4 linked regions of the Homo sapiens genome follow. The protein of the gene in region 3 interacts with the protein of the main gene of each other region in a biochemical or structural test. Each region holds a gene or a part of one and is shown on either strand. Other genes may lie near its edges.

What was found. Proteins that work in one complex are often made in the same cells at the same time.
Region 1: the proteins of RSRC2 (region 3) and LNX2 interact in a test that uses a peptide from one of them, tested with the Homo sapiens proteins (one large-scale study listed by IntAct).
Region 2: the proteins of RSRC2 (region 3) and APBA1 interact in a test that uses a peptide from one of them, tested with the Homo sapiens proteins (one large-scale study listed by IntAct).
Region 4: the proteins of RSRC2 (region 3) and PARD3B interact in a test that uses a peptide from one of them, tested with the Homo sapiens proteins (one large-scale study listed by IntAct).

The regions. Positions count from the first base shown.
Region 1 is NC_000013.11:27,579,030-27,582,529, forward strand, and holds part of LNX2 (ligand of Numb protein X 2), read right to left. Parts: intron 2,775-3,500; 5' UTR 2,675-2,774; coding exon 2,268-2,674; intron 1-2,267.
Region 2 is NC_000009.12:69,429,202-69,431,371, reverse strand, and holds part of APBA1 (amyloid-beta A4 precursor protein-binding family A member 1), read left to right. Parts: coding exon 1-45; 3' UTR 46-2,170. UniProt on the Homo sapiens protein: Putative function in synaptic vesicle exocytosis by binding to Munc18-1, an essential component of the synaptic vesicle exocytotic machinery. May modulate processing of the amyloid-beta precursor protein (APP) and hence formation of APP-beta.
Region 3 is NC_000012.12:122,520,437-122,523,936, forward strand, and holds part of RSRC2 (arginine/serine-rich coiled-coil protein 2), read right to left. Parts: intron 1,864-3,500; coding exon 1,707-1,863; intron 997-1,706; exon of another isoform or gene 993-996; coding exon 949-992; intron 146-948; exon of another isoform or gene 76-145; coding exon of another isoform or gene 68-75; intron 1-67.
Region 4 is NC_000002.12:205,300,975-205,304,474, reverse strand, and holds part of PARD3B (partitioning defective 3 homolog B), read right to left. Parts: intron 3,012-3,500; coding exon 2,774-3,011; intron 1-2,773. UniProt on the Homo sapiens protein: Putative adapter protein involved in asymmetrical cell division and cell polarization processes. May play a role in the formation of epithelial tight junctions.

The DNA of each region.
Region 1 (3,500 bases), on a different chromosome or scaffold from region 3:
AGACTATAAAGACATGGTTCTGTTTCTAAAGGAATCTACAACCCGGCATTAGATTCTAACTTGCAGAGACTACCTAACACCTAGAAAAGTATCTGGCACATAGCAGATAATCAATATTTGCTGAATAAACAAATGAACTATATTATTTAGGGTTGAATGTTGTATAATATACATTTCTACCTGAATTTCAATGTTCTTATTTAAGAGAACAGAGAAAGGTCAGGCTGTTCATCACTATCTGTTCAAATGGCATATAAAAATCATATTACATTTTATAATTTTTTTACATTTATATACTCAGTAATCACTCTTAGCTGTCTGTATCAGGCAAATCACCACCTTTTCCAATCATCCATCTTTTCACTGTATCTTTCATGTTACAGGCCTAAGATACTTTAGAAATGATAAAATTGGTTACTTCAATACTAATAAGCACAGCTGGAAAATGAAACCTTCAACTGGATAAGCCTTTACCAACATGTAAATGAAAAGGCAGTTTGCAATTACCAAGGTTTTTTACATTCTCATTATAAATGGTTTGATAAGAAACACTAGTAATAGTTCAACTGCAAATTAAATTCTTGAATGCATGTTAAAGGAATATTCCTGAAAATCTGTGAAACTGTTATCTTTCAGCTCTCAAAATCATAAATAACTGAACTGACATTTCATTCAGTTCCTCTAACATCTCATAACTGATGTTTAGAAAAGAAGCCTATACACTGAAAAGAACAGTTCTACTGAAAGAAGCAGCCTGAAATATTCTTCAGCCATAACTAGTCCTGACTCAGACTAGTATATTCAAAAGACCAGTGTCAGTTTCCAGGAGGCCTCTGCCATCATGTTCAGATTCTATGCTTGCTGGTTACAGAAGATATAAAAAAATGCAATGCTACATTATTACACGCATTTTCAAAAGTCTGTCTATCCTACTCTATCTTACCTCCTAGTTCTAGACAACACAGTTTAGAGTTAAGCATTCTATAAATCTAAATGTTTCCAACATTTTAATAACATCTTTGTTTTTTTCATTGTTTCTCATGTCTTAACTCTGATGTTTAGAAATAAATATCAACAATATATTGATACAAAATGAATGTGTATTTCATGTGCACATGAATGAAACTTTTGCTACATAGCAGCAGAGAACATGACTTGACCTACGATAGAGTCAACATGGTTTATTAGAATAGTAAACAAGAACAGTAAAGCTTGAGTCTAACTACAGCATTAACTAAATTTTTGTGACTCAGTCTCCTTATTCATAAAATGAGGGGGATTAGATAATCTCCTTCAAGTCTATGATTTTATGTGTGAGTATAATAGCAAGCCATTCTATATCAGACTTACACTCTTACATCTAAGTCCAGTATGATGTAGTATGCATTGTTTTTCACAGCAATCGAGATTACTGCAGATTTATACTGTAAAACTGGCTTAACTTGAAATTAGAAACCAGTATTTATTTCTGCCATTTTATGTGATTCTACACAAATGACGTATACTGTAACTCTTCCTAAGTTAAAGATCAAGTCTTTTAGCAAAATCAAATTATAAAACTCATCAGCTAAATAAATTACTTAACCTTTTAAAAAGCTTTTATGAGAACAGAAATCCCCACTAAATATTTAGTTTTCCAACTCCTAATTCTTGTTCAGTCTAGTCCCTGAACCCAGAATCTTTACAAGATCTTAGCAAATAAAATAATGTATTTATTTCCATATTGCAACAAAATTATCGTTTTTATTGGCTGCATAATATCCCACTGAGTTTATGTGCATAGTATTTTTTAACCCTTCCCTACTTTTAAATAACTGATTCCAATTTACCAAACTATGCACAATGTTGCACTGAACATATTTACATACAATTTTTCCTGCTTTTAGATTATTTCCTTAGGATAATAAACTAGATAAAAGGAGATTTACATTCATATAGTTTTTAAAAACAAACTGCCAAACTGCTTTATAGAAAGAATCTATCATAATATCCTGTCATCTATTTGAATATATCAGTTTCATATTACAGCAGCAGAAATATTAACAGGTATAAAACAGTACTTCCTCACTGTAGTTTTTGTATTCATGTTTTTGATAAATAATGTTAAATACTGTTCCATACAACTTATTTATTGTATCTCTTCTGTACTTGATTCACCCATTTACTTACTAGTGCTCTGGTTTGTTTTGTTTTAATCAAGTTTTTATGTTCATTTGAACCACCTTTTTCCAAAATCTGGAGTTACTTCTTTTATATTTTTTGCTTACCTGTTTTTGAGATGTGCCTCCAGATCACAACGTTGCATTACATCTTTGCACACTGAAGAAAATGGACATAAAACTAATAATTTGTCTAGGAGTTTATGAACTAGAATACTAGACTTCTTGCACAACTTAAAATGAAGTCTTTTCCGGTCCAACGGACAGAAATCTTTCTCTTGTAAAAAGTTTCTGAGGCACTTGTAGCAGAATGTATGTCCACAGGGTGTGTCTAGTGGCTGCAGCAGAGGTTGAAGGCAAATATGGCAGACTAGGTCATCATCCACTTCATTCTGGTAATTGTACAAATGGTTTTCTCTTGTCCAGTGCTGTTGGCCACATTCAAAACACAGGGGGTTTAGAGAAGAGGAGGAGGTCTGTTCCACAGACACCATCTCATCACTTGTTGTTCCCATTTTGAATCAATTCTGTATCCTCATGTGTTAGACTTCCACTTCACGCTTGGTTTCCTTTAACAGACAGTGATGTATCTGACTAAAGTCAAGGTGTGTTTTTCTAGATAAGCAAAACAAACACATTAAAAAAGGTAATTAATATCAATCAAGATAGGTTAAAAGTATCAATGTAATATTACTGGTTAGCTTTTTTTAGTAAAAAATTAAAGGTTGAATCAGGTAATAAATTAGTCATAAAAAAAGAAATTAATTTTCTAGTTGGCTAAGAAGGACTTACACTGCCAAGTTCTTTTTTATTATAAGTTTTAATTGTCTCTTTTGATTTTTTTATTTATTTGCTTTTTGAGTCAGGGTCTTGCTCTGTCACCCAGGCTGGAGTGCAGTGGTGCAATCTCAGCTCACTGCAACCTCTGCCTTCCAGGCTCAAGTGACTCTCCCATCTCAGCCTCCCGAGTAGCTGGTACTACAGGTGCACGCCACCATGTCCTGTTAATTTTTTTGTATTTTTTTGTAGAGACAGGGTTTCCATGGTGGAAAGCCCAGGGTGGTCTTGAACTCCTGGACTCAAGCAATCAGCCCTCCCAAAGTGCTAGGATTACAGGTGTGAGCCACCGTGCCTGGCTCCCACTGTCAAGTTCTTGATAAAAAAACAACTTTTGATGAAAGGTAAAGACACCATAGATTATATAGTGTGACATAAGAAACAATCGATTTGTTTTACTGACTGAAATCCCCAAATATGTCACTGTTCAATGGTAGTTTTAAAGCCAATTAATTGTGCTAATAGTAATGCTGTTTGAGGTATATAATACATTTGCATGTCATC
Region 2 (2,170 bases), on a different chromosome or scaffold from region 3:
ATGTACAGGCTGCTGACGGCCCAGGAGCAGCCTGTTTACATCTGACCGCGGCCACACGCGGTGGCATGCATGGAGGACTCTCCTCTTCGTGGTTGTGTTTCTCGTGCTGCATCCCTGTGTCCACTGAGACTTTCCCCTCTCGCGCCCAGCATTTGGTTTTACACAGGAAGAGAAGAATCCACAAGGACCTCTTTACTCTCTCCGATTTGCTTTTTTTTTTTTTTTTTTTTCAATACCAGGGAAGTTTCGTATGCACTCCCTTGAGGATGGAGAGCAGCCAGCACCCACCTGGTACTGACCCAGGACCATCCTGGAGGGCTTTCTGGGTGTGTCCAGGGGGTGGGCTGTCACTGCTTGAGGGAGAATCCTCCCTTCCCAGGAGGTGCAGACTTCTTAAAAGGAGCTCGCGGGGCAGCAAAGCAGCTGATTCAGCAGTGCCTAAAACCCAGTTGCTGATCCCTGCTCTCTGAGTTTATCTGTGGGAATGTGGTAGTACCCAGGGCCAGCCCACGTCATTAAGGTTATGCACTGCCTGCCATGTAGTTGGGGCACCATACATTATTTCTTCCCAGAATCTCTGAGCCAACCTTAAACCTCTTCTATTGCTAGTTCTAATTTCAACGTATGTGTGTTTTCTAATACGAGCCTTCTCACCCCAGGATAAAAGGGGAAATAACTGCCTTGGGCAAGGACACCATAGTGTCACAGAGAGCTTGGCAATTCATGGGGCATCTGAAGCTTTACCAGGTTGTCCTCAAGTTATCAACCATTAGATAAACACAGGCAGGTACTGTCTGCTTCTCTCTCTCTCACACACACACACACACACACAGTCCCATTTGCATATCACCCTTCCCTGCTCCCACCACCAGTGAGACAAGCTGAAGATTAGGCACACAGATCCCCTGGAAACCCACCTCTCTGGAAGGCCCCTTCCCTGGCAGGTGGCCAGGCAGGCGGGGGCTGCTCAGCCTCATCCTGAGAGACCTGCCCTCTCTGCGCTGAGGCCCAGCCCCTCCAGCACCACTTTGGCTTAAAGCATCCTCCTCCTGGACTCCCCTCCCTGCCGAACACACATCCCAGGAGTCTGGGAAGGAGGGACTGTTCCCAAGAAGGCAAGCTGCAGGTGCAATTGCGTCTTGTTTTCTGGCCCAAGGCAAGACCAACTTTCTTCTCTGCTCAGGGCCACTAGGCGGATGTGATATTGGAAAGGCCAGAATAGTACATAAACCACAAAATTAAGGAGACAATAGCAACCTCAAGTTATGCCTCAGAATCCCCAGATGTGGTCCATAAACACCCTCTTGCTGCCTTGTGGGCCTGAGAGCATTTTTGGCTGGTGTGGAATTGTTCCGTGTTTTCATCAGGTGCCTCATATTTATGCTTCCGTCTCAGTTCAGTGTAGATGTTTTAGTAATATTATAATTCTGAGCCAGTTTTCACTTGGTCCAAAGAGCATTTTGTGTTCATGTGAGGTGTGATTTGGCTTTGCTTTTGTTTTGTTTCATTCATGACCTCAGTAGAGACAGGGGAAGAGAAACTATTATATTTTGTAATTAATATAGTCCCTGTTCTCTGCATCCGAGATATTTATGTTGTGTCTATGGAAATAGGAACTCAGTGAGCAAATGGTGGGTAGCATGTATTTATAGAGAGAATGGAGGGATTCTAAGGAGGGAGCAAAGTGACTATAACAAGATTAGGGACAAGAGACTTCAACCAGAGAGTTCTGTGATCAATTCCCCGAGATCTCTGCATCTTCTGAGTTTTCTGCTTAGAATCAGGGAAGCTCAGTGCTTGACAGGAACGAGCAGTGGCACTCTCAGTTTCACTGTGTTACAAAGGAGCCCTGAGGAAGGGAGGCCGCTGGCTGCCCAGGTGCCCTGGGGGGAAAGGGACTTCTGCTGCTGCAGAGAGTGGCACCCGGTGGGGCCAGGGGCTCTGGGATGGTCCGTAAAGCTCCCCAGGACTTCTTTGAAGGATGCTTTACAGAATGTTTCTGGGAGACCAGCCTCAAGGTCAACCCATCACAAACGTGAGGACCAGGAAGGAACCATGGCCAGGGTTCTCCATTTGCTGTAGAGTATCTGGTGATACAGTGAGACACTAAAGAGTCATCAGCCAGTTCATCTTTCCTCTGCCAATAAGAGTGGATAGAACAGGAATGAAG
Region 3 (3,500 bases):
CATTAAAACCCTTAACTGATTTAAGATATATTTAAGGGAAATAGGAGTTTGAATGACTAATAGTTACCTTATCATGAAGTAGGCTTATTATTTTGCTATCTGAGTCTGCAGCGTCTTCAGTTCAGTCTCTTCGCGCATAAGCACGCTGAGTATGATTTATTATAGAAATGTTATCATGTGAGCTAAACAAAATAGTCATTTTCACAAAAACTCTCCTAAATTAAAAATTTAACAGAGCTTCCATTACGGGAAGAGGTGAAGTCCCTGCCCACTCTTGTTTTAGGAGTCCCTTACCCAGCCCCCACAAGACTCTTCTCCCTTTCTGGCTACTACTTCTACACTTCCTTATTGGCTCATTCTTTGTCTTCTCAGGTGGGTGAACAAGTAACTCCTTTGCAATACAGCTGCTGCCTTTCTTTTTCCTCAAGTTTTGGTGTCACCGCCACCTTTTCAGCTGTCCCTCACTCAAACCTTTATTTCAAAATTCAATACTACTATTAGGGAAACTGAACTAGTTTGCAAAAGAAAAGAGAACTCCTGTTATCGTTCATAAGGAAAAAGCAGCGCACAGATATCTAGGGTATTGCTATGTAAAGATGATTGCTGTTTAAAAATCCTGAGCAACTGTCAGGCACCAGGAGACTCGGGACCTCAGATTAATGGAAGCTCTGTGTGACAGGCCTAAAAAAACCAATCATATTCTTCATATGAAATTTTTATTGTGAATATTTTCACAATATAATAAAATTAAAGTTTTGAAGGTACTTTTCACATAAACATCTTCTTCAAAAATGATGAATCAAAATCATGCTTATTTTATAACCCAATAAACCTTTTAAATTTCAAGTTTTGTACTTACCTTGACAACGTCTTATATTCATACAAATCTTTCTACCAGACACTTTATAAGTATTTTAAAGTACCTATTCACTACAAAGTGTTAATTACCTCTTTGCTTCTGCTCCGGCTCCTGTGTTTTCTTCCTTCATTATCTGTGAATACACAAAAAAAATAATCACCATAAACAAAGTTGGAGAAACATTTCATCTTAAAAAACTCTTAATGCTGGAGAAAAATGACTCCCATTAGTCTTCTTCCAATGACTAATTTTTTCATGGCACGGGTGGGATTATTCTACATTAATACAACACACATGTGAAACAAATCAAGCAATCTGAGCAAACCAGGACATAAAGCAGCCTAGATACATCTTTTAAACGGTCATAGACTTTCAGTATTTTACATATATTCTGACCAGCCCATCTAGTTTCCTAGTCTACAGCAAATTCATAAGGGGGTTTAATAGAGAGAGGTAAGCCATTAAGAAAAATAAAAACTAAAGAAAATAAACAGGTTGAATTATATTTGATATGTTCCAACATGGTGAAACCCAGTCTCTACTAAAAATACAAAAATAAGCTAGGCGTGGTGGCGCACGCCTATAATCCCAGCTACTCAGGAGGCTGAGGCAGAAGAACTGCCTGAACCCAGCAGATGGAGGTTGCATTGGGCTGAGAGTGTGTCAATTTTTGTATTTTTGGTCCTGGCTCAGGTGATCTGCCTGCCTTGGCCTCCCAAAGTGCTGGCATTACAGGCTTGAGCCACCATGCCCAGCCAACAAACTAAATGTATGTGTCTTCTTATACAACAGGTCTACATATCTTATACAAATGCTGAGAGTTGTAACCACCTTTAAGAATTCATACCTGACTTTCGTTTTCTTTCTCTTGACCTTGATCGTGATCTTGAATAATGATGTTTTGAAGCTCTAGGAGAAACAGATACTTCTGACTGCTCTTTTTTCTTATCTCTATCTGGTGATGTCTTTTCTGGGGCTAGTCCATCTCGCTCTGTATCACTAGCCTAAAAGTTTAAAAACAAATGATTAAAGTTCTTAATTACATTTTAAATGTTTTCAATTTCTTAAAAGAGGGACAAAGGGAGGGAAGATAGCCCCCCACAATCAATAAATCAGAATGCCTGCTTTCCAAGTAACTAAATGTGCTTTGTACACTAATAAGGCTGAATGGCTTGAAATGACGAACCTGATACTAAAGCAAGACCTACATATTTAGACTGATGTATCTTTAATTTTCTAACGATGATTTGTATAACTTTTAAAACATGGGGTGGGGTGGGGGAGGAATAAGGGCTCCAAGTAGTTCTAATAAGCATTCAAGCAGAGAAAATAGTCCTTTTTAGATGTGTGAATGCATTTAGCTGACTTTACCAATACTTTTAAATTAGCATACATGTCAAACATCAAAAATGAGTTGTTAAAGCTTAAAGATACTCAAGACGATAAAATCTTAAAACAATGCCCTAAGAATATTATAAAATAATAAACAGAAAATTAACTTACCTAAGTGAGAACCTCATCTTAATGTCATTAACCCTCTTTAATGAAAACAGCCCCTTGGCACAGTGCTGCTGCAAAATATGGTCTGCCTCTCCTCACATGTGCTCTGGGCTATGAAAACATTAAGTTGTTTCTGCTTTAAAGCATTTTATAAGTAATTATTACAATATAAATTTTACAAGTTTCAACTAATGCAGAAGGTAGACAATGCTCGGCTATCTGACCAGAGAAGATAACATGAAAATAAAATAATTGATACACCTGGGGAATTGATTACTTAGGAAGGGTTGGCAAGCTATGGTCCTCATTCTGTTTCTGTATGGCCTTGAGCTAGGAATGGTTTTTTACGTTTTTTAAAACTATTTTAGGCATATTTAATAAATAACTTCAGTAAATAGCACTGTAAAGACTGAACTGTTAAAACTAAAGGCACTTAAAACGCCAGTGTTGTGGCTCATGCCTGTAATCCTAGCACTTTGGGAGGTTGAGGCAGGCGGATAACCTGAGGTCAGGAGTTTGAGACCAGCCTAGCCAACATGGTAAAACCCTGCTTCTACTAAAAACACAAAAATTAGCCAAGAGTGGTGGGGCGTGCCTGTAATCCCAGCAACTCAGGAGGTTGAGACAGGAGAATGGCTTGAACCCATGAGGCAGACGTTGAAGTGAGCTAAGATTGCGCCACTGCCCCTCCAGCCTGGGAAAGAATGTGACAGAGACTGCACATGGCCCACAAAGCCAAAAATATTTACCGTCTGGCCCTTTACAGAAACAGTTTATGGACTTTTCACGTATAACATCAAACGGAATCTGGATTGAATAAATAGGGAATCGATAGTCTTCAGCAGGAGGAATCACATTAGAGAACTTCCTCCTTTAGGAAAGTTAGTCCAGAAAATGAATACCAAATATCAAGTACAATAAATGGGGGTATTGTATTTTAACAAATTTTAAACAAGTATCAAGTACAATAAATGGGTGTATTGTACTTTAATAAATGAAGTTGTGAGAGGTCGAGTTACTTCAACAAGTATTTACTAAGGGTCAAAAATGTGCCAAAACCAATGCTAGACTTAGGGAATAAAATGATAAATTAAAAACAGAAAGGTTTTGCAGTTCAATTATGAGATGAAAGACATAAATT
Region 4 (3,500 bases), on a different chromosome or scaffold from region 3:
TAGTAGAGAAGGGGTTTCTCCATGTTAGTCAAGCTGGTCTCGAACTCCTGACCTCAGGTGATCCGCCCGTCTTGGCCTCCCAAAGTGCTGGGATTACAGGCTTGGGCCACTATGCCTGGCCAAAATTTTGTTTTTTAATATTCAGATAGCTATTATGACATCAGGCCTGCTGGGGTAACCTCACCCCAGGTGATAGCAGGACCGCAGCAAGTCTTGTCATAACACATCCAGGGGCAACATCGCTCCCAAGATTTTGAGCATGAGGAACCTTGCTTAGCATTTCATGAGCACTGGAAATGTAACGGGAAGGCTCACTGCTAAGAGGATTATTTGTATTCCCTAAATGTCACTTATATATGGAATGATGGAACTTTCTTTTCTATGTAGAAATTTCAGCTGATGATCACAAAATGAGAACAATTGGTAATAAATACACGCAGCATTCTTAAATGAGGTATCTCCTAAGGGTTTCATAAGAGGTGGCCAAACTGGCCCCTAAACCATCATCTCCCATCATTCACCTTCAGCCCACAGAAGTATAGTGATCAATTGATTTGAGAAGAAATTATAGGAGTAAAGACAGTAATAGAAAGGGGTACTTCTGCCTGTAACACCCAACAAAATAAGTGAGGGGGCTACAAGTAAACCCCTTAGGGAATTTGGAGGTAATTGTATAATAGGAGATTGTCACCCCACTTCCTACCTGTTTATTTTGTGACTTGCAAAAATTGACTGCCTCCTCCCTTCCCCATGCATGACAGCATTCTTGGGAGAGTCTGATGTGTGCTTCTGGAGTGAGGAGGCCCAGAGCTGGTGTGGGATGTGCTGGAGAAGTCTGAAGATGCAAGGCTGGTTGGAACATCTCTATGGTGGGGTGAGGAGGAGCGGTACAGTGGGAACAAGCTGTACTTGCATCATTTGGAGGGTGGGAGATCAGGAACTCTAATAAGCCAGGTAGATGCTGTGGCTGTAAGTTAAGCTAGAGCTGTCTCAAACTGGCACTGTCCAAGAAGTCTACCAGCCGGGGTAAGGAGACTCAGGGGTATATGTCTGAGGTCAGAGGCTTAGGGAAATAGGTCAGTGGGAAAATCACCTACATTAGTGACTGGTATAGTAAGGAGCACTCTAAAAAATCCACAAAAGTAGCCACAAAGATTCCTTGATGGCCAGATTATACCAGATAATGCCAGTTAAGTAAAATCCTATCCTATTGAATCTTGTCTTTGTCTCCTGGTTCCAAAGACTGAGAAATAGGAGAAGGTGGAATCCTGCCTCCCACCATACCATAGGATGCTCCTTGTGGTTCAGGTCCAACAGGCAGAAAGGAAGAAAGCTTTCATTTATATTGGATTGCATATTTTAGCCCCCGACAAACAAGTTGCTTTTTTTTTTACCCAAAAGTGACCAGAAAGCTATCAGCCAGAAAGCTGAGATGTCAGGGTGTGGAAGAGGCAGCCTCAACAGTTTATACTTGAAGGGGAGAGAAGAAACAAAGCTGTTTTCTGACTGTGCCATGTTGAGCCCCGTCTAGTCAATGAATGTATAGCATATGAAATCATATCTCACAACTGTGCTGGGTCAGTAGAGCAAGTATGCTGGCCTCATTTTAAAAGTAAGGAAAGTAAGGCTCAGGGAAGCTAAGCAATGTGTGTGAAGCCCCATTGCTCATGTGTGGGGAGTCATGGATCCAGACTTGGGCATCAGAGCCCAGACCCAGTGACATCTCCCCTGTACCACAGTGCCTCTGGAGGTGACAAGTGATGTGCCCAGAGGCCCGGCCACTGCACACCTAGAGTCACAGAGGGATGAGGTTCATCTACCCTGACTCCCCTGCTTCAAAAGAGGTATTCCAGAGGTAACACATAGGGCTTCCCCACTTCCCACTTTCCCTGTGGTGTCAGAGGAAGTATTTATTTTCATAACACTTTGGTACAAAGGACTGCAGGCATTGTCCATGCCTCTACTAAGTATTGGCCTTTCTTTTATGGTGTAATCATAGCTCACTGCAGCCTTGAACTACTGGGATCAAGCCATGCTCTGGCCTCAGCCTCCTGAGTACTTGGGATTACAGGTATGCACCACTGTGCCTGGCTAATTTTTTTTTTCTTAGAAATAGGGTCTCCTGCCTGAAACCCCAGCACTTTGGGAGGCCAAGGCAGACAAGGCAGATCACTTGAGGTCAGGAGTTCAAGACTCCTGGCCCACATGGCGAAACTCCACTCTACTAAAAATACAAAAATGAGCTGGGCGTTGTGGTGCATGCCTATAGTCTCAGCTACTAGGGAGGCTAAGGCAGAAGAATCGCTTGAACCCAGGAGGCGGAGGTTGCAGTGAGCCGAGATCACGCCACTGCACTCCAGCCTGGGCGACAAAGCGCGACTGTCTCAAAAAAAAAAAAAAAAAAAAAAAGAAAAGAAAAAAGAAAAAAAGAATAGGGTCTCCCTACCTTGCCCAGGCTGGTCTTGAACTCTTGGGCTCAAGCAATCCTCCCAGCCTCCCAAAGTACTGAGATTACAGGCATGAGCCACCGTGCCTGGCATAGTGTTGACCTTTCTTTGACAACAAACTTAAGACAGTGTCCTGTCATCACTGTAACTTTCCCCAAAAAGCTCCTCTGCCTCTGCAGAAAGAGAACGAGCACAGAATTGAGAGCCGTATGCATTTGGCTGAAGACGAGGAAAAGCGTGCGCTTTTTTCTGAGTACAGACAAAGGAGTGATTTTACCAGGAGAGACAAAATGAGAACCAACTTTGCCTTCAAAGCAGGCCCATACCTCAGCATGGCGCCGAAGCCCTTCTTCTTTATTTTCCTTTCTGGATCTTCATTCTCCTCTTTGCGCTTTTTCTCCTTGACTTTCAATTTGCCCTTTTCCTTTTTCTTCTCCTTCTCTTTCGTTTTTTTGACTTTCCTGGCTTTATTTTCCATGTCCTCTAGCTCCGAATTCCCCTGAGGGGCAGACTCACAATTCAGAGCTCCTTGGCCAGAGTGAGAGCTCTTATCAGACAGACCGTCTGTACAGAGAAAAAATAATCAATACCCATGGTCAGGGGCACACTCAGTTAGTATACAGAGAAACGCTAACATGTAAAATGCAAAAGAATGAATAACAGCACTCTGTAGTTCTACCCTTCTATGTGGTTACGTGCGCCCTTTGAAGATCTGACTGCCTAAATCTGGTTACTTCGAGCAAGACTTGATGCTGGGAGTGGGGACAACCGGTTGCTTAGCTGGTAGTATGAAAGGCTTGATATGTGTTCAAGCACTAATCTCTCTGAAAGCTGCCTTGTTAACCTTGATCAGCTCAGAAAGCCTGCATGCTGGGAAACAAACAGGGTGAGAAGAGAGTTTTGAGTACAAAATATCCCAACTGCTTCTACCCAATTAATGCAGTCGGAGTCCTTGGATTGATGCTGCCTCTAATGACTCGAATGAGAATGTCAAGAAATGCATACTTAGTGCTCCTACCCTAAGGGTAAATGACAGTTGGTCCTTGTAGAAAA